3 linked regions of the Homo sapiens genome follow. The protein of the gene in region 2 interacts with the protein of the main gene of each other region in a pairwise test. Each region holds a gene or a part of one and is shown on either strand. Other genes may lie near its edges.

Evidence for each region. The genes of interacting proteins can lie anywhere in the genome.
Region 1: the proteins of CHCHD3 (region 2) and EFHC1 interact in binary tests that used the Homo sapiens proteins (3 or more experiments, as listed by UniProt).
Region 3: the proteins of CHCHD3 (region 2) and LMO1 interact in binary tests that used the Homo sapiens proteins (3 or more experiments, as listed by UniProt).

Annotation. Positions count from the first base shown.
Region 1 is NC_000006.12:52,437,342-52,444,373, reverse strand, and holds part of EFHC1 (EF-hand domain-containing protein 1), read right to left. Parts: intron 6,071-7,032; coding exon 5,783-6,070; intron 1-5,782. UniProt on the Homo sapiens protein: Microtubule inner protein (MIP) part of the dynein-decorated doublet microtubules (DMTs) in cilia axoneme, which is required for motile cilia beating.
Region 2 is NC_000007.14:133,079,063-133,086,130, forward strand, and holds the start of CHCHD3 (MICOS complex subunit MIC19), read right to left. Parts: upstream 3,029-7,068; 5' UTR 2,876-3,028; coding exon 2,795-2,875; intron 1-2,794. UniProt on the Homo sapiens protein: Component of the MICOS complex, a large protein complex of the mitochondrial inner membrane that plays crucial roles in the maintenance of crista junctions, inner membrane architecture, and formation of contact sites to the outer membrane.
Region 3 is NC_000011.10:8,225,847-8,232,878, forward strand, and holds part of LMO1 (rhombotin-1), read right to left. Parts: exon of another isoform or gene 7,026-7,032; intron 6,261-7,025; exon of another isoform or gene 6,133-6,260; intron 5,239-6,132; exon of another isoform or gene 5,123-5,238; intron 4,659-5,122; coding exon 4,445-4,658; intron 4,433-4,444; exon of another isoform or gene 3,715-4,432; coding exon of another isoform or gene 3,578-3,714; intron 1,255-3,577; coding exon 1,129-1,254; exon of another isoform or gene 1,008-1,128; intron 1-1,007. UniProt on the Homo sapiens protein: May be involved in gene regulation within neural lineage cells potentially by direct DNA binding or by binding to other transcription factors.

The sequences.
Region 1 (7,032 bases), on a different chromosome or scaffold from region 2:
GAAAACTGGCACAAGACAGGGATGCCCTCTCTCACCACTCCTATTCAACAGAGTGTTGGAAGTTCTGGCCAGGGCAATCAGGCAAGAGAAAGAAATAAAGGGTATTCAATTAGGAAAAGAGGAAGTCAAATTGTTCCTGTTTGCAGATGACATGATTGTATATTTAGAAAACCCTATCCTCTCAGCCCAAAATCTCCTTAAGCTGATAAGCAACTTCAGCAAAGTCTCAGGATACAAAATCAATGTGCGAAAATCACAAGCATTCTTATACACCAATAACAGACAAACAGAGAGCCAAATCATGAGTGAACTCCCATTCACAATTGCTTCAAAGAGAATAAAATGCCTAGGAATCCAACTTACAAGGGACATGAAGGACCTCTTCAAGGAGAACTACAAACCACTGCTCAATGAAATAAAAGAGGACACAAACAAATGGAAGAACATTCCATACTCATGGGTAGGAAGAATCAATATTGTGAAAATGGCCATACTGCACAAGGTAATTTATAGACTCAATGCCATCCCCATCAAGCTACCAATGACTTTCTTCACAGAATTGGAAAAAATTACTTTAAAGTTCATATGGAACCAAAAAAGAGTCTGCATTGCCAAGACAATCCTAAGCCAAAAGAACAAAGCTGGAGGCATCACGCTACCTGACTTCAAACTATAGTACAAGGCTACAGTAACCAAAACAACATGGTACTGGTACCAAAACAGAGATATAGACCAATGGAACAGAACAGAGCCCTCGGAAATAATACCACACATCTACAACCATCTGATCTTTGACAAACCTGAGAAAAACAAGCAATGGGGAAAGGATTCCCTATTTAATAAATGGTGCTGGGAAAACTGGCTAGCCATATGTAGAAAGCTGAAACTGGATCCCTTCCTTACACCTTATACAAAAATTAATTCAAGATGGATTAAAGACTTAAATGTTAGACCTAAAACCATAAACACCCTAGAAGAAAACCTAGGTAATACCATTCAGGACATAGGCATGGGCAAGGACTTCATGACTAAAACACCAAAAGCAATGGCAACAAAAGCCAAAATTGACCAATGGGATGTAATTAAACTAAAGAGCTTCTGCACAGCAAAATAAACTACCATCTGAGTGAACAGGCAACCTACAGAATGGGAGAAAATTTTTACAATCTACCCATCTGACAAAGGGCTAATATCCAGAATCTACAAAGAACTTAAACAAATTTACAAGAAAAAATAAAACAACCCCATCAAAAAGTGGGCGAAGGATATGAACAGACACTTCTCAAAAGAAGACATTTATGCAGCCAACAGATACGTGAAAAAATGCTCATCATCACTGGCCATCAGAGAAATGCAAATCAAAACCACACATCTCATGCCAGTTAGCATGGAGATCATTAAAAAGTCAGGAAACAACAGGTGCTGGAGAGGATGTGGAGAAATAGGAATGCTTTTACACTGTTGGTGGGAATGTAAACTAATTCAACCATTGTGGAAGACAGTGTGGTGATTCCTCAAGGATCCAGAACAAGAAATACCATATGACCCAGCCATCCCATTACTGGGCATATACCCAAAGGATTATAAATCATGCTGCTATAAAGTCACATGCACACATATGTTTATTGCGGCACTATTCACAATAGCAAAGACTTGGAACCAACCCAAATGTCCAACAATGATAGACTGGATTAAGAAAATGTGGCACATATACACCATGGAATACTATGCAGCCATAAAAAATGATGAGCTCATGTCCTTTGTAGGGACATGGATGAAGCTGGAAACCATCATTCTGAGCAAACTATCGCAAGGACAGAAAACCAAACACTGCATATTCTCACTCATAGGTGGGAATTGAACAATGAGAACACTTGGACACAGGGTGGGGAACATCACATACTGGGGCCTGTCATAGGGTGGGGGGTGTGGGGAGGGATACCACTAGGAGATATACCTAATTGAATGACAAATTAATGGGTACAGCACACCAACATGGCACATGTATACATATGCAACAAACCTGCACGTTGTGCGCATGTACCCCATAACTTAAAGTATAATAATAAAATAAATAAATAAATAAACTAGGTATTAAAGGAACACACCTCAAAATAATCAGAGCCATCTATGAAAAACCCACAGCCAACATTATATTGAACAGGGAAAAGCTGGAAGCATTCCTCTTGAAAACTGACACAAGAAAAGGATGCCCTCTTCCACAACTTCTATCCAAGACAATATTGGAAGTCTTGGCCAGAACAATCAGTCAAGAGAAAGAAATGAAGGACATCCAAGTAGGAAGAGAGAAAGTCAAACTATCCCTGTTTGGAGAAAACATGATTCTATATCTAGAAAACTCCAGAGCCTCATCCCAAAAACTCCTTAAGTTAATAAACAACTTCGGCAAAATTTTAGGACACAAAATCAACATACAAAAATCACTAGCACTCCTATACACCAACAACAGCCAAGCTGAGAGTAAAATCAGGAACACAATCCCATTTACAACTGTCACAAAAAGAATAAGATACCTAGGAATACAGCTAACCAGGGAGATGAAAGATCTCTACAATGAGAATTACAAAACACTGCTTAAGGAAATCAGAGATAACACAAGCAAATGAAAAAACATTACATGCTCATGGATACGAAAAATCAATATCTTTACAGTCACCATACTGCCCAAAGCAATGTACAGATTCAATGCTATTCCTATCAAATTGCCAGTGACACTCTTCACAGAACTAGAAAAAAATACTTTAAAATTCAATGGTACCCAAAAAGAGCCTGAATAGTCAAGGCAATTCTAAGCAAAAGAACAAAGCTGGAGGCATCATGTTACCTGCCTTCAAACTATACTACAGGGCTACAGTAACCAAAACAGTACAGTACTGGTACAAAAACAGACACATAGACCAATGGAATAGAATAGGGAGCTCAGAAATAAGGCTACACACCTATAATTATGTGATCTTCAACAAAGTTGACAAAAATAAGCAATGGGGAAAGGTGCTGGGATAACCTGCTAGCCATATGCTAGCCATATATCTTACACCAGATATAAAAATCAACTCAAGATAGATAAAAGACTTAAATGTAAAACCCAAAACTATAAACACCCTGGAAGACAACCAAGGCAACACTATTCTAAACATAGGAATGGGCAAAGATTTCATGACAAAGACACCAAAAGCAATCACAACAAAAGCAAAAATTGACAAATGGTATCTAATTAAACGTAAGAGCTTCCGCAGAGCAAAAGAAAGCATCAACAGAGTAAAAAGACTATCTAAAGAATGGGAAAGAAATATTTGCAAACTATGCATCTGACAAAGGTCCAATATGCACCATCTATAAGAAACTTTAATTTACAAGAAAAAAAGCAAAGAACCCCATTAAAAAGTGGGCAAAGGACATGAACAGACACTTCTCAAAAGAAGACATACACATGGCCAATAACCATATGAAAAAAAAGCTCAACATCACTATCATTAGAGAAATGCAAATCAAAACCACAATGAAATATCATCTCACACCAGTCAGAATGGCTATTATTAAAAAGTAAAAAAATAACAGGTGCTGTCAAGGTTGTGGAGAAAAAGAAATGTTTATACACTGGTGATGAGAGTATAAATTAGTTCAACCATTGTAGAAAGCAGTGTAGTGATTCCTAAAAGACCTGAAAACAGAACTACCATTTGACCTAGGAATCTCATTATTGGGTATATACCCAAAGGAATATAAATCATTCTGCCATAAAGACATACCCGCAAGTATGTTCATCGCAGCACTATTCATAATAGCAAAGACATGGAATCAACCTGAATGCCCATCAATGGTAAACTGGAAAAAGAAAATGTGATACATATACACATACATATACATATACATGAAGGTGCCAGATTTTTTGCATTTTTGTGTTTTTTGTTGGTGATTTTGCTGTTTAAAGGGTCCCAGTGCCTAGTGATGAAGTGCTATTTAGTGTTCCTAAGCACAAGAAGGCTGTAACACACCTCATGGAGAAAATGCATGTCTTAGATAAGCTTTGTTCAGACGTGAGTTATAGTGCTGTTGGGTGTGAGTTTAATGTTAATGAATCAACCGTATATATTAAATAAGGTGTCTTTAAACAGAAACATACATGAATCAAACTTATGTATTGATCAGTTGACAAAAATGTGGCCAGAGATTAGTGGGAACCTAACCCTGTATTTCCTCTAAGACTAGTGGTTCAGTATTCACTAATTCAGTGTTTGTGGTGACTTTATAGTCCTAATTACTGTCAATAATGAGAACCGACTATAAATAGATTAGGTCAAACGCTCAGTGATTAACTTGCAAATGTTCAAATTGCCCATAAAAACACAACTGTAAAAATAATTGTTATGAAAACACAACTGTAAAAATAATTGTTAATACATTTATGTTTAGATAACATTTTATCATTTCTCACTGTTGGTACAATTGTGAAACTGCCTATGATATATAAGACCTCAGACACCTAAAAAGCAAAGAGATAAAAATATGTTGGAACGGGAGAATATCTCAAAGATGGTCTAGCACCTCTACTTTTGAAGCTATTTTTCTCTATTGCTTTGGAATGGCACTGATGCCATGGCTCCTTTCTTTACTTCCTTCAGGCCTCTATTCATATGTCATCTTATCACTGAGGCATTCTCTGATCCGCCTCTATAAAGAGCCCCTCAACTTCCATTCCCTTTACTCAGCTTTATTTTCCTCCATTGCTGTTATCATCATCTGACATATAACCAATCTATTTATTTGCTATTGCTTATCTCCTCCAACAAGATTGGAACCTCTATAGGGGCAAGTACCTATAACATGCAAGGAAAGGAGAAATGGTGCACTATTAGCTTGTCATAGTCATCTGAAAAATATCAAGTACCTTCCTGAAAACATCTGGCACCTAGAACAGTGCATGGAACAAAGCAGGCATGCAAATAAATATCTGTTAAACAAACTACTAAATGAAAACAATAATGGATTCATAGGAGCTCAGTGCATGGTAAAAATTAGTCACATATGGCACTAGGTATCCTGGAATAGGGACATAAAATACTTCAGAAACTATATCTTTGCTGCTAGAAATATTTTTTTAACTAAGACAAATTTGGAATTGACTTCCTAATTCCTACACTTTGTAGTAAAGAAAGGCCACCTATATCCTCTATGCATGTAACTTTAATAAAAGTTTCCTTTGTATTAAAAAATCCAAACTTACGAAATAGAGGACTTTTTACATATAGAAGAGGTTTTTTCATTTAAAAATGGTTTCATTTCAGAAATTCTTTAGATGGTAAGCTTTCCTAGAATATAGCAAGTATCATTTACCAAAAATATATGAGCTACACAAAAAATTTTAGGCTCATATCTGCTAATAGAAGTAGTGCTATTTTTGTAAACTCACACTTAAGATAAAACGTTTAATCCCTCTTCCATACTTACATCCCAGCAGGGATGCTATTCCCCTACTCCCTGTTTGAACTGCCATTTTAACCTGGTTTCTTACCAAATTATTCAGCTATGATGAGAGTTTGATTTTGAGTGAATAAGTATTAATATCATTCTGAAAAAATTATGTTACTATTAGTGTTGGCACATATTAGCACATACACACATGCAAATACCTAGCCATTCATAATAATTCATGCAGGACAGATTACCAATGTCCTCCCCTTACCCTAATAAATGAAATGTATCCTTCTATAAATTAGAATGATGCCTCAGACCCCACAACTTTCAAAAATATATGCTATACCTGTGTGAATTGGTCACAGTCAACAACGCGGAAAGTTTTGCCATAAATTGTGATGTTTATTCCTCGATTTAGGTCTTTCCAATGGTAATGGTCACCCCGGTCATTCTTGGCTAGCCGCTGGCGTTTTATTAACTTGCCTTGAAGGATTCCAGAATTTTCTACAACAGGCTCTATGACAGACATGCTGTCATCTTCTAGATAATAGTAAATGTTCACCTGACGGATCCTATACTGTTCCTCAGTTGACATAGGAACATCTTCTTGGAAATAGGCATCAAATTTCAGTACCTATAACATACAAGGAAAGGAGAAATGGTGTACTATTAGCTTGTCATAGTCATCTGAAAAATATCAAGTACCTTCCTGAAAACAGAACCACACAGGGAGATTTTAACACTCATCACTTCTATCCTGTAAATCTTGATACTCTAAAACTACAGATACTGCAAACTATAGTCCATGGGACAAATCTAACCTGCCACCTGTTTTTTTTATGACCTGCAAGCTAAGAGTGGGTTTTACATATTTAAATGGTTTAAAAAATTTTAAAAAATGTTTCATAACACATGGAAATTATAAAAATTTAAATTTTCAATCCACAAATAATTATGTAAATAATTTACGCTTTTTTGTTAACAGCTGCTCTCCCATTACAAGGGAAGAGTTGAATAGTTGTGACAGAGATACACAGACTAAATTGTGTCCCCCTCATCCCCAAAATTCATATGTTGAACCCCTAACCCTCAATGTGACTATATTTGGAGACAGGATCCTTAGGAGGTAATTAAGGTTAAACCAGATCTTAAGGATAGAGGTATGCCACCTTTAAGTCTAATCCCATAGAACTGGTTGCCTTAGAAGAGAAGAAGAGAAAGAGAGTTACTTCCCTCCCCTAACTCCCACATGTACACACCAAGGTAAGGCCACATGAAGACATAGCAAGAAGACCGCTGTATGCAAGCCAGGAAGAGAGCCCTCACCAGAATTCAAACCAGCTGGCACCTTGATCTTGGACCTCCAACCTCCAGAACTGTGAGAAAATAAATTCTATTATTTAAACCACTCAATCTGTGGTATTTTGTTGTGGCAGACTACGCAGGCTAAAACCACTGCAATGGCCAAAATATACGCTAACTGCCCTTTACAGAAAAAGTTTGCTGACATCTGCTTTAAATACTCACAATGTGTATAAACTATTTATTGCATATGTTCCTTGGTGAGAATACATCTTAAAGGACTTAACTCTACTA
Region 2 (7,068 bases):
ACAACAGACCTAGACAAAAAAACACCCTCAATTAGGGCAGAATGTAAGACTCCCATTTCCCAGTCCATACCCTTTTAGGTACACCTGTTGGGGCACAACATGCTCTTATTTTTATTAAAATTTGAAGTTCACTTAAGTTCACATATCCATTCTTTTGAACAGCTCTAATAACAGCTATTATTCACAAGTGCAAACACTGTCAAAGTACAAGACACTGTGCTAGATATACATTATGTCAAATTCTCAAAGTAGGCTTTGTCCAGAAATACTAAATACGGAAACACAATGAAAAGTGACTTGTCCAGAGCGACACCGCTAGTGAGAGGCAGAGATAGAATCCAACCCAGGTCTGCTTGGTTCCAAGGCACATGCTCTTTCCACTACACAGCACAGCACTTTCAAAGAATCTTAAAACTTTGCATGTGAAAGGAACCCTATCATAATAATGGCTGCCTTTTTAATGAAAATCTACAATGTGCCAGGTGCTTTACATACCTTACCTCATCTTCTTACAATAACCAATCAAGGGAAGTGATGGTATTACCGTTTATGGATAAGGAAATAAAAGAAGTCAATTGTCAAAGGCCACAGGCTAATAAATAACTAACCTGCGATTTAAACTGATGTCTGCTTAATTCAAGCCAAGAAAAATACTAAGATCAACTGAAAAACATCTACAAAAGACCCAGACAAAAATCACACAGGCAATCAGGTTAAGTAATAAATATCTAACCTGAGATTTAAACTGAGGTCTGTTTAATTTCAAGTTGATACTCTTTTGATCATGAGCTCAAAGAAATCAGAATGACCTCTGTGTACTCAATACTTCAATGGATGTCACTTCTAGAGGAAACTGCAATGGGCTAAGTATGGCTACAAGAAACTTACAGTGCCACCAGACTCACAGGATTTCAGGACTGGAAAATATTAGAGATCTGAGGGATGTACTCAGTTGCATTATTTTGCAGATGGGAAAACTGAAGCTCAGAGAGATTGCAAAACATTCATGTAAAAGGAGGATTTGAAGCAATGGAGACCAGCGCAAGGGCATTCCAGGTGAAGGGTATATTCTGAAGAAAAGCATAGAGGTAAAAATGATCATGCTTGAACTGTTAGCAATACAGGTAAAATGTACTATATAAGAAAGGAAAAAAATGAGGAATGCTGTCAAGTTATATGACCAAAGGACATTTCTTTTTAAAAAACAAAAATCTTAAAAAGGTTTTTTAGACAATTTTTCCATTTTAATAGAATACCTATCCCTGCTGTCACAGTTATTCCATCCAACCTTATCTAATACTTGATATGAATCTCTGTGCTGTGGCCACATTCTCTTTCGATTTTGTTTGCTGTTAGCACTGTGTCTGTACTAAAGCACGAGAATATGGATTTATACATTTTTTTCTAACCAATGTCTTCTCACTCAAAACTTATTTTGCTTTGTCTTTTAATTATTTTTCACTCTGAGTTGCGTACTGAAAGCCTAATGGCAAGAGTCTTAAAATCTCTGCATAAAACTTAAAGTTTACAGTAATTTTTTACTCCAAAGAGTACTAACTGAAACACAATAACTCAAAGAATACAGCCTCAGATATTTTATTACAAAATGTAGTACTACCATTAATTAGCATGATATAAAGAAATACTGGTCACAGACCAAAAACTGAGTTCGACAGTCTGAGTTTCTATGAAGAAAAGTTTAATAAATTATTCTCAAGGTAACAGTTTCAGAAGAAAAAGTTTTTAAACATTTTAAATATTTAAGAAGTTTTATTTCCTGGTAACAACTGTTAAAAATAATTTACAAATGTAATTTATTTACGCTGGTTGATAACAGAAAAAAATATATAAATTATTATAAAACTTTCTGAAGTCAAAATTGCTTTATTTACTAGGTTCAGGCATCATACGTCCAAAAATGTGAGGCTCCAAATTCAGGCGCAGCGGAGAGTGTGTTAATGAAGTTAGTGCTGGTATACTGACACCCTAGAGAAAAACCAGGTTTTCAGTTTATGTATCAGGTGCATGCAAAGGGCATTAAAAAAAAAGTGCTCTACAACGTTGGTCAGAAATGACTACATTACTTCTACTGGTATGAAAAACTGCAAACCCATCTCAGCCCCTATCAGACTGGCAGACACTAGTCCTGAAGCAACTGGGCCTAATCCAAAACTTCGGCGCAGCAGGTCACAGAGGAGGCGCCTGGGAAAGAGGAGATATCAAGTGAAAGTGAAGCAGGGAGAAGCCAGAAGCCGCCCCAGGCAGGTCAGAAAAGACTGTGGGGCTGGGAGGGAGGATGACAGGGTGTGGGGAGTGGGTGGGAGGAGGGGGTGTTATCAGAGGGAGAGCACTAAATGACACAAAGCAAAGGCAATCCTTAAAATGCCAATTCACCCTGGGAGACAGGGTGTGCACAGTGGAAAAGCAGGGTTTGGGTCCTGAACCCAGGAAAACCATTTCACAGACAAGTACACCGAGGTATGGGTTTCAAATACGGTCCTGCAACAAGGGAGCAGTACAGTTACGAGTAGACTGTGAGCCCTTGCAGGGTATAATTCAACCTGGCATTCCCCGCCCGCCCCAGCAGTGCCTAGCACTTGGCACAACCAGGAACTATCTCTGAATGAATGTCCCACGTCTTGAAACTCTAGGCTTCTTCCCAGACACCTGGGCTTCTGGCCTTAATACGCTAGGGTCCAGGACGGGAGAAACCCAGGCTGAGCGGGTCCGGAGAAGATGGGGCCTTGGGGTCCGAGTCCAACCACTGGCCCTCCGCCCGTCCACGGGCACTCACCCGGATGCCCTTCACCACGGTGATGTTCTCATTCTCGTCCGCCTCGAAGGTGACCCGGCGGGTGCTGGTGGTCCCACCCATGATTCCGGTTCCTGCCCCAGCGGAGACCTAGCGGGGAACCACGAGCACTTCGGGGCCCCCGCACCCACACGCGCGTGGAAGGGCCTGGATTCTTTTCCCGCACAGCGGGAGCAAGGCCACGACCCCCAGAAGCAAGGAGAAGGCGCCGGTCCTGAGCTCCCGCCTCCTCCGGTCACGCGCCACAACAAAAACGCCTCAGGTTGGTCGGCGATGCGAACTGCCCGCCTCTGTTCGGCGAGGGCGCCCGGATTGGTTCACCCGACCCGGATGCTATGGCAACAGGTGGTGTTTGATAGCTTTCCGCGGAGTCCCTGGGTGTAGTGGGAACTGTGGTCTCGATCTGGCGCGGTGGGTGATGGGACATTCTCTCCCCGCGCCTGAGCGCGCTAAGGGAGCACGGCATTCTGGGAGTTGTGGTTTTGACTCCCCAGAGACGCCTAACTGGGCAACTTTTTGAAGACATAATTCTAGAAATTTAGGCCACTAAGTTCAGAGACACAATCTTTCTCTCAAAGGGACTCACAGTTTAATGAAAAAGATGCATGATACTAATGAAGCCATTCCTAGTGTTCTATACACAAATTCCTGGCTCAAAACTTAGCGTTTCATTACAGTCGTAGGGTAGCTTAATGAAGACTACTTCTGAGAAATGCCTCGTTAGGTGACCCTGTGATATCTGTGGTTGTGCAAACATCATAGAGTGTACTTACACAAACCCAGATGGTGTAGCCTACTACACACCTGGGCTACTTGGTGTAACCTATTGCTCCCAGGCTGCAAAGATGTACAGCATGTCACTGTACTAAATACTGTAGGCAATTGTAACACAGTGGTATTTGTGTGTACAAATATATGTAAACATAGAAAAGCTACAGCAAAAACAGTGTAAAAGTGATTGCTTTGGCAACACATCTAGGACAATTTGAACAATACAGAGATTAGCACAGCCCCTGAGCAAGGTTGACACATGAATTTCTGAAGCATTCCATTAAAAAAAAAATCAAAGATAAAAAATGGTATGCTTCTATAGGGCACTTACCATGAATGGAGCTTACAGGACTGGAAGTTGCCCTGAGTGAGTCAGTGAGTGAGTGGGGAGTTGAATGTGAAGGCCTGGGACGCAACTATGCAGTACTGTACCTTTTATCAACACTGTGCACTTAGGCAACACTAAATTTATTTTCATATATTTTCATTCTTCAAGAATAAATTGACCTTAGCTTACTGTAACTTTTTAAACTTATAAACTTCTTTTTTTGTGACTTTTTGACTCTTTAATAACACTTAGCTTAAAACACAAACACACTATATAGCTGTACAAAAATATTTCTTTCTTTATATACTTAGTCTATAAGCTTTTTCTATTTTTGAAATTATTTACTTTTTACTTTTTAAACATTTTTGTTAAAAATTAAGACAAACACACACACATTAGCCTAGACCTACACGGGGTCAGGATCATCAATATCACTGTCTTCCACCTTCACATCTTGTCCCACTGAAAGGTCTTCAGAGGCAATAACACGTATGGAGCTATCTCCTATGATAACAGCACCTTCTGTAACACCTCCTGAAGGACCTGCCTGAGGCTGTTTTACAGTTAACTTTTTTATATAGGTAGAAAGAATGCACTTTAACCTAAAGATAAAAAGCATAGTATAGTAAATACTAGGAGACAGGAATTTTCCAGCTCCATTATAATCTTATGATTCCACTGCCAGAAATGAGGTTCTTCTTTGACTGAAACACTGTTATGCAGTACATGAATGGTGGCATTTTAGTAGTAGCCATAAAATAAAAAAATAAAAAACGTAAACGTGTGTTTGGTCCATGTCTCTTGTCTCATGAACTAGTATCTGTATTTTTTTCTTTTTGTAAAGTAAAATTTTAAGTACTATGGTTTTCAAACCTGTCTATGAGAAAATACATTTCTTCATAGAATAAATTATTTGCACCAAGTATGTAGAGAATTTACTTTCCACTTTTGTGTCTCCTTCTACTACTAGTTCAGTTACATAAGTTAGGCCATAATAGGGTTAGGCAGAGAAAAGTTAAGTGATTGCCAAAGATGGCATAAATTAGTGGAGGAATTAAAACTACATCAGAAAAGTTGAGATGATCTATTGTGGAAAGTTCCTATTAATAGTTCAACATTTCACCTCTACGAGACCAGTACATAGTTATTAGGTTATTCATCTACATATTTCTTTTTTGCTAAACACACTGTTACACATAAGTTTAGCCATATGACCTTAGTTTTACAGAGGCAGATGATTCTCAATAGAAATTAGGTTAATGATGGTACTATTCTTCAATTAATCCCTCTCAACATTAAAAGCAGCAGGCCACAACACACCATGGCATTCTCTTATGCCAAAGGCATCTACAATGCAGTCGCATTTTTGAGCTTCAATTATGTGCTGATCTATTACTGTATGAATCCAATTATGTGCTGATCTATTACTGTATGTATCTTTTATTTTTCTGAGACAGAGTCTCGCTCTGTCGCCAGGCTGGAGTTCAGTGGCGCAATCTTGGCTCACTGCAACCTCCGCCTCCCAGGTTCAAGCAATTCTCCTGCCTCAGCCTCCGGAGTAGCTGGGACTACAGGTGCGTGTCACCACACCCAGCTAATTTTTTTGTATTTTTAGTAGAGATGGGGTTTCACCATGTTGGCCAGGATGGTCTCCATCTCCTGACCTCATGATCCTCCCACCTCAGCCTCCCAAAGTGCTGGGATTATAGGCGTGAGCCACCGCTCCCAACCTTACTGTATGAATCTTTAGAGCAGAAACTATGTCTTTTTAATCTCTATATCCCTGGTCAGTAGCAGAGTGTTGATTACATCTCATCATTATATTCTTTTAAAATTGTACTATGTTACTTTGCAGTTATGAGACTACGTGCTACTTTGTACTTGTTCTCAAGTTTCCTTCTTTTTTCTTTTTTTTTTTTTGAGAGAGAGAGGGTCTTGCTTTGTTGCCTAGGCTAGAATGCAGTGGCCCAATCACGACTCACTGCAGCCCCAACCTCCCAGGTTCAAGCAATCCCTCCCAGTTCAGCCTCCCCAGTAGCTGTGACTACAGGTGTGTGCCACCACACCTAGCTGTGGTCTCACTATGCTGCCCAGGCTGGTCTCAAACTCCTGAGCTCAAGCAACCTTTCTGCCTTAGCCTCCCAAAGTGCTGGGATTACAGGCATGAGCCACCATGCCCAGCCTAACTCTTTCTTCTACTGGGAACTAAAGCTCCAAGGAATTATGACTTTCATTTTTTGGGGACCCTCCCCTCCACAAACACACTCTCACTTATTACCCCAATATATAGGGCATATCGGAGGTTCTATATAACACACATGCTCAACAAGCACTTACGAAAATAACCAAGTACAAAGAAAGCGTTCCTTGGAGAGAATAGAGAGATGAAGAAACCACTAGTTGTCTTAAATATATATATATATATCTCCAGTTAGAATATTAAGTAGAGTTCTTTCAACCAAATATATTAAAGATGATGAATGCCAAGCATGAGAAGGTAGTGGAGTGCCTTCATGTTTTATGATTCAAACACATATAAGTGGTCTAATCAAACAGACAATCCAAAAATGTTTTAGACATCCTAATGCATTTTAACCAACATTACAAAGATGCCTTCTGAGTTTAAAAAAAATTCAATGTATTCTTTAAAACAAAATGCCTTCTCTAACAATACTGTTCTATCCATGTCAATTTCTAGGCCAGTCATGCCTATACAATCCCTTCTTGAGCTACCCAGAACTTGTGGCCTCCCTTTCTTTCTGGCTACAGCTTATTAATAGTCATCTAATCCAAAGGCAGCATTTACTAGCCAGACACCTATGAGCTAGAATGCAAAGCTTTGCCCTAAGAAAAATAATAGCTAATACTTCAGCTACTCAGATTCTCCATGTTTTTCTCCGTTTTCTGTATCTCTGTATTCACTTTCTCAAATTTAAACTTGAAAATTCAGAGCATACAAAAAGATAGCAAGAAGAGAAGTTATAACACTGAGTCTGTACCATGAAGAATCATGGCAAACTAAAGATAGGTGGAATAAGAAACTGCAAGAAAAATAAAAGGCATCCAGACTGGAAAGGAAGAAGTAAAACTACCTCTATTCGAAGATAACATGATCTTACAAATAGAAAAATCTTACAGAATCCACTGCAAAACTAAT
Region 3 (7,032 bases), on a different chromosome or scaffold from region 2:
CTCACTTCAGGGAGCACTTGTATGCGTTCCTACCTGACCTGGGGGCTCCTGAGAAGAGCGCCTGCCTTCTGGTGCTAGGCCCCAGCCAGGGCTGAAGGGCTCTGGCTCCTTAGGTCCCCAGGGACTCCCACAGGGCTAGGGCACAGAGTTGGGGCCAAGAGACCAGAAAATAGGCTGGGCTGGAACCAGAATCACAAGGGCTGGGTGAGGAGAGAGTGGCCACTCCCTGAGGGGACTTTGCCCTCCAGATTTGGGAACCCCTTCTCACTGGAACATACATGCACACACATGCACATACTATACACTGGGTACGGGGGTGGGAGGATACGTTATCCCATGCACATGCACGTTTCAAACACGTATACAGGCTGGGCGCGGTGGCTCACACCTGTAATCCCAGCAATCTGGGAGGCTGAGGTGGGCAGATAACCTGAGATCAGGAGTTCAAGACCAGCCTGGCCAACATGGTGAAACCCCGTCTCTACTAAAAATATAAAAATAAAAATAAAAATAAAAATTAGCCAGGCGTGGTGGCACACGCCTGTAGTCCCAGCTACTTGGGAGGTTGAGGCAGGAGAATCACTTGAACCCGGGAGGCAGAGGTTGCCGTGAGCCAAGATTGTGAGATCACACCACTGCACCCCAGCCTGGGCAACAGAGTGAGACTATCTCAAAAAATAAAATATGTATACACACATGCATACTCACCTCATCATGCATGCACGTTGCACATACACATACACCCCCAGACATTTAAAAACACATGTACAAATGCATATTAATTCCATCATGCACATGTGCCCACTTGTACATTTCCAAATACACATGCATGCACATGCACACTCAACTATGCATACACAGTAAACTCATGCACGCCTTCATTATATTCACACAGAAATGTGCCACACAGATGTGCACACCCAATATTAAAGTGCACACATTTGGCTACCGAGCTTACACACACATAAAACACATAAAGCACATGCACGCTCATAACCTGCACGCACCACCACATACACACACGCAACCCGCATTTGCGTGCACGCCTCCGCCGTGCTCCTGGCCCATCCCAGCAGGCCTCAGGCTGGCGTCTGGGGAGTGTGTTGGGTCGGCCAGTCCAGCACTGACCTCTGGTTGCAGAGCTGGCAGGCGAAGCAGTCGAGGTGATACACGTTGTCCCGGGCCCGCATCACCATCTCGAAGGCTGGGATCAGCTTGCTGCAAGCAGCACAGTTCCCTGTGGTGCCAAAGAGCCTGCCGAGGGAAGGGCGCAGAGGACTCAGCAGCATTCTGGGAAGCTGGGTGGGCAGGGGGAAAGGAGTTGCCTCCATCCAGGGTCCTTCCCATACTCCAACTTGTGGGCTCAGCAGGTGGGCTCAGGCAATAGGATAAGAGCACTGAGGGCAGCATCTAGATTCTGCCCAGAGATCAGGCTGCCAATAAATCAGCACATCCCCTTCCAGGGAGGGTGTGTAGGGGGTCAGGAGTTGGCTGCCACTGCCCATCCCAAGGCCCCCTCCCAGGCTCCCACAAGGGTCCTCAAGCCCTGGAGCCACCAAGAGAATCCTAGGCTGGGCCCTGAGCAAGCCTGAATTTCAGGGGCAGACTGAATCTTGGGTTGTGTGCCCTCAGGCAAGTCAGTGAGTCTCTCTGAGCCTCATTTACCTCATCTGTAAAACAAAGCCTGAAACACACCCTTTATGGGGTAGTTGTGAAACCTGTTGTAAATTCTCAGTCACAACTCACTAAGCAACCACCTAGGTAGTGTTCACTATGTGTCAGCCACTAATCTAAGAGCTTTACAAAGATAAACGCTTAATCCTCACAACAAACCTAGGAGGTGGTACTATTATTATTCCCCATTTTAAAGATTTAAAATATGAGTCACAGAGAAACAACTTGGACAGTCACAGGGCCTTGGTCCAGAAGGCGTGCTCTAAACCACTGCATGACATGCTTTTCCCACCTTTAACATTACAGTGTTTATTATTTGATTTTTAAAAATAGAGATGGGGTCTCACTATATTGGCCAGGCTGCTCTCGAACTCCTGGCCTCAACTGATCCTCCTGCCTTGGCCTCCCAAAGTGCTGGGACTACAGGTGTGAGCCACTGTGCCTTGCCAAAATTAAAGTGTTTTATTAAATCTTTTTTCCATGACAAACTCACTGTGTTACTTGCCTAAGTCCCTTTTTTTCTTTCTCTGAACCTCAGTTTATCCTTCTGTAAAATAGGGATGGATGATCCTATTCAAAGATGCTGTAAAACAGAACTGATGCCCAAAGGAAGCGCCAAGGACATCTGGCACAAATGCCTCTTTGAGGCAGGCACCCCTCCTCTTAGCTGCTGGCTGTAAAGCTCTAGGGACAGGGAGTTTACTCCCTCCCCATGCAGGCCAGCCCTTGGCTGGATGTCCCAATGGTCTGAGCCATCCCGGCTCCTCCTTGCTTCTTTCCTGCACACAGACAGAGCAAGCCCCAAGTGAGGCAAGGAGGCTGAGAAGAGGGTGGGGGGCCCCTTTAATCCCCGATTTGTCCAGCTCAAACTCAGGCGCCTGCAGATGAGCTTGGCTCCATTATTCATCAGCTTGAGCTGCCTGGTGGCTCAGATTAAGGCAGACAAAGGCTAGGCCACAGCATCTGCCTGCCAAGAGGGGCTTTTCTTGCCATCGGCCCAGGAACAGTTGCTGCAGAGGGCGCAGGCTCTGGACAGCCATTCTCCAGGCCTGAGCAGCTCAAGGAAGCCACGCTCGCATCCCAGCCCACTGGTCTAGCTGGTCCTACAGTCACTCCTTGCCTCTGCCAGAGCAAAAAAAAAAAAAAAAATTACCTTCCATCCCTAGTAGCTGGCAGGGCCCTATATGCTTGAGGGTGCTTTTTCCTGATAAGCCCATCCTACACTGTGGGCCTCTCTCTCCAAGTCCTGTGAACCCATCAGATGGTCTGCCACATCGTCCTAACCTGGTAGAGTCAGCCCCCAGGTGATGCCCTAAACCTCCAGACATGGAGGCCCCTTCTAGGTCCTCAAGGGGTGAATCCCCAGGAACATTCTTTTCTTTTTTGAGACAGGGTCTTGCTCTGGCACCCAAGCTGGAGTACAGTGGCGCAATCACAGCTCACTGCAGCCTCAAACATCTGGGCTCAAGCAATCCTTCCACTTCAGCCTCCTGAGTAGTTGGGACTACAGGCATGCAGCCACTACACCTGGCTAATTTTTTTTTTTTTTAGAAACGGGGTTTCACCATGTTGCCCAGGGTTGGTCTCGAACTCCTGAGCTGGAGTGACGTGCCTGCCTCGGCCTCCCAAAGTGCTGGAGTTACAGGCATAAGCCACCGCGCCTAGCCTGAACATTCTTCCTTAACCCCTGCTTCTGGTCTCAGCCTCTCCCCTCCAGCCCTGGCAAGGAGCACTAAGTCACAGCTTCTGTTTTACTGCATCACTTTTAAATGCAGGTGTTAAAAGGGGCAGGCAGGTCAGTCAAAGGATCTTTGGGGAATTGAGGGAGCTTCCACTGATAACCTCCCCCTTGCAACATGCCCAGACCTGGGCAGAGGGAGCCCCATGAAGCCCTTGCCCCGACCTGTTAATTAATGCGATGAGCCCTCCTTCCCCACAAGCCCGGCAACCATCCAGCAGCCTGCGACAGAGCCAAATGCAGGTGCTGGGTCTCAGCCAAGGCCCTGCTTTGTGGCCTCCTTCCAGCCTTGCTGATGTCATAAATGGCCTCAGGGAGGGTTAATTGGGGGAGGTGGCCCCAGGGAATAGGATCCAAATTGTAGGGAGGGTGAGTTAGAGCTCAGAGGAATGCAAGGCAGGGAAGCATCATTCTTTCACCCTTCACGGGGAAGTAAACTGAGGCTGGGAGAAGATTAGGAGCCAAAGGCTCACAGCTAGTTCCAACCCAGGTCTTGAAGCTCCAGCATCAGTGGCCCTGCTCCTAGGATATGGCTGCCTGCCAGTTTCCCTGGGCAAATGGATGCCTGCTCCCAAGGACCATCTAGAAAGGAAAGTTGGACACTGGGAGATGGAAAGAGACTGCATTAGGGAGGAGGGTCCTGGGGAAGTCAAAGCTTCCACACCTGTTCTCAAAGCCCCTCTGAGGTATCCCCTCCCAGATTCCAGATCAGGTGGGTCAGAAGCACCTGGCCAAGGCAGGGGGGCGGAGCCAGACTGGGGCCCTCGGAAAGCTTAACTTAGGGGCCCCAGGTTACAAATGCCTGCCCTGGACTTGTGCTGGGTACCGAGTCCAAGGGCATAACGACCTGGGCCTTCCCCTCAGGTGACTTCTCAGGTATCTGGGGCAAGCAGGGCAGGGGCAGGACAGTCAAGAATGAGAGGACACACAGGGTACTGGGTCTAGGGCCGGGGGCACAGTCACGCTGGGGCTGAGGATGGGGAGCTTTCTGAGCAGGACAAGGGCTTGGGAGGCCAGGGTTTGGCAGCCCACCTCAGGTAGTCGCGTCGGCACAGGATGAGGTTGGCCTTGGTGTAGAGGGTGGAGCCCACCTCGCCCAGGCGGCAGTCACAGCAGGCACACTTGAGGCAGTCTTCGTGCCAGTACTTGTCCAATGCCTTCAGCAGATAGCGGTCCTTGATCTTGCGGTTACAGCCCGCACAGCCCTTCTGCTTCCCTTTGGGCTGGACGGAGAGCATCGGCACGCCTGCAGACGGACAGACAGACAGCAACGCAGGATGGGCCCCGTAGCTCTGGGCCTCAAGGAATATCCCCCAAGAATGGGGAGCTCACTGCTTCTCTCTGCTGCCCCCTCTAGGTTTGGGGCTCCCAGGAGCCCTCGCTTTCTCCCCAATAACCTCCTCCCCTGGCTCCGGGTCCTGCCCTTTGGGCTACATGGCACAGCCTGTTTCCCTGGCCCTGTGAAGGTCCCTCCAGAGGCTGCTCTGCTCCAAGGCACACACAGACCCCAGGCCTGGCCTCCCTGAGTTGTTCCTCCCTACCATGGCCTCTATCCCCTGTGCGGTCTCATCCGGAGTAAGCCTGAAGCTCGTCTTGTGAAGCCACCATCACATTGGCTCTTTCAGCAATAAGCCTAAGAAATGTAGTCTCCTCAGGCCCACGAGGTCCTCTAGAACCCCCAGATCTTTGTGCCAACTCGTCTTTCTCCAGCTGAAGTGCTACAGCCTCTTGGTCTATCCATGTAGAGCTGTGATGGCATCAAGAAGGAAGTGAGACGCCCCTGGGACACTCCCAGGAGGGAGCAGAGGCTCTGGGGCTCCTGGCAGGTAAGCGGAGGCAGCTGGCAGGGCCTGGCTGGGGCTCCCCTTGGGAATGCTTCAGGCGGTGTCACACCTCACCTGCCCTGGCCTGGGGGAGGGCAGGCTCTGAGCCTCTGGATCCTTCCTCATTCTACCAGGATTAGGATCTCTCAGCCATCAGTCCCTCCCAGGGCCCATACCAGCTTCCCAACATACACACAGGCACCAAGTACAAAGGGCCCAATGTGATGTTCACCACAGGGCAGAGCCTCCCGTCGCGGCAGGCGAGCATGTGCGCTCACACACACCCCTCACACACAGGCACGACGTGCAGGTGTGGGCATGAAGTGACAGAGGCACGGGTTCCTAGTCCCTTCTCCTGGAACCACAGGGACCGTTGAGGAGGAGATGGGGACATATGTCGTCCAGTAGCCTGGACATCCATGTGGACCCGTGAGGCTGGGAGGGAAGTGCAGAGGACCTCAGAAGCCCTGCTCTGTGACTTGACAGGGCGGGAGCCTGTGGCAGTTGCCTGAGAACCCTTGTGAAGACAGGGAGCGTGTGCATGCTCCGTTCCTGACCAAGGCGCAGCTGGATAGGGGCCCACCCCTCCCCACCTCCCCGGCTTTCCAACACTCCCCTGGAGTCTGTCCTTCTACTGGCCCCGTCCTCTCCAAAGGACCCCTGCTCTCTCCAGGGCTCTGGCCTTCCTCCCATCCCCTGGTGTCCCTCCCATTCCCAGCCCTCCTCACTGCCCCCAGCCCAGAGTCTGAATGGTTGGGCTGCTTCCCTTCCTTTTGCTTCTCTCCTCCTTGGGCGTTAGGGGAGAACAAGCCACAAGAGGCCTTGGTCTCAGAATCCACAGATGTAAGGTCAGAAGAGCCCTCAGAGTTCTCCCAGTTAAATGTTCTCATACTACAGATGGGGAAATTGAGGCTCAGACAGTTACAGGGGCTTGAGTCAGCCACCGTCAAGCTGGCCCCAGGGCTCCTTCTCCTCTCCTGTGCTCGCTCTCAGCCCAGCTGGCTCCTCAGACTTCTCCTGGACAGGTGAGTCTGGGGAGCTGGCGCCCACCCACAGGCTACAGTGTGCAGGGCCAGTGGCTCCCTCCTCCTTCTCCTCCCTGCAGTCCCGGCAGGGCCTGTCTGTTAGCTGGTGAGTGTGCTGCCTAATTTCCTTAATGCAGCTCTAAAGGTTAATTGGTCTGAGAGAGGGATGGGGCACAGGATGACTCTGTCCTCGGGCCTGCCTGTGTCTCTTCTAGCAGGGCCCAGCCTGGCACAGAGCTCTGAAAGAGCCCAAGGAGGGCAGCTGGGGAGCAGATACCCCTGAGAACTGAAGGGGTCTTGTGAGGCTCCTTCCAAGTCCTGGCCTACAGGGAGGTGTGGGGAAATGGGAGAGGAGTTAAAATAGCTGGATGGGGAAATGAGGGGCCTCCCAGAGTGGGACCTGGACCAGGGTAGGGCTCCAAGGGCATGACCTTGTCCTTAGGCCCTGTGCAGGGAGCATGCAGCCAGCAGAGGTACGCACTCAAACACCGACTGGGAAAATCTTGGGCCAGGCCCCCGCTACAGCCCCTACAAGGCTCACGTTCCTTTTGCTCAGCCAGGCTTGCAGCAGGCCTGGCTCCCTTCCCAGTGGTCCTGAGCCCCTCCCAGGGCTCTATATTTGGGCTATTACCAGAACATGGGTGAATGGCTGGAACCTCCGTACTCAGGGGAGACCCTAGCCCACTAAATTATAGCCCAAAATGAAGGGAGACAGTGAGAGGCCCCAGCACGTGAAGCAGCTGTCCCACTCTCTCTTCCATCTACCCTGGCT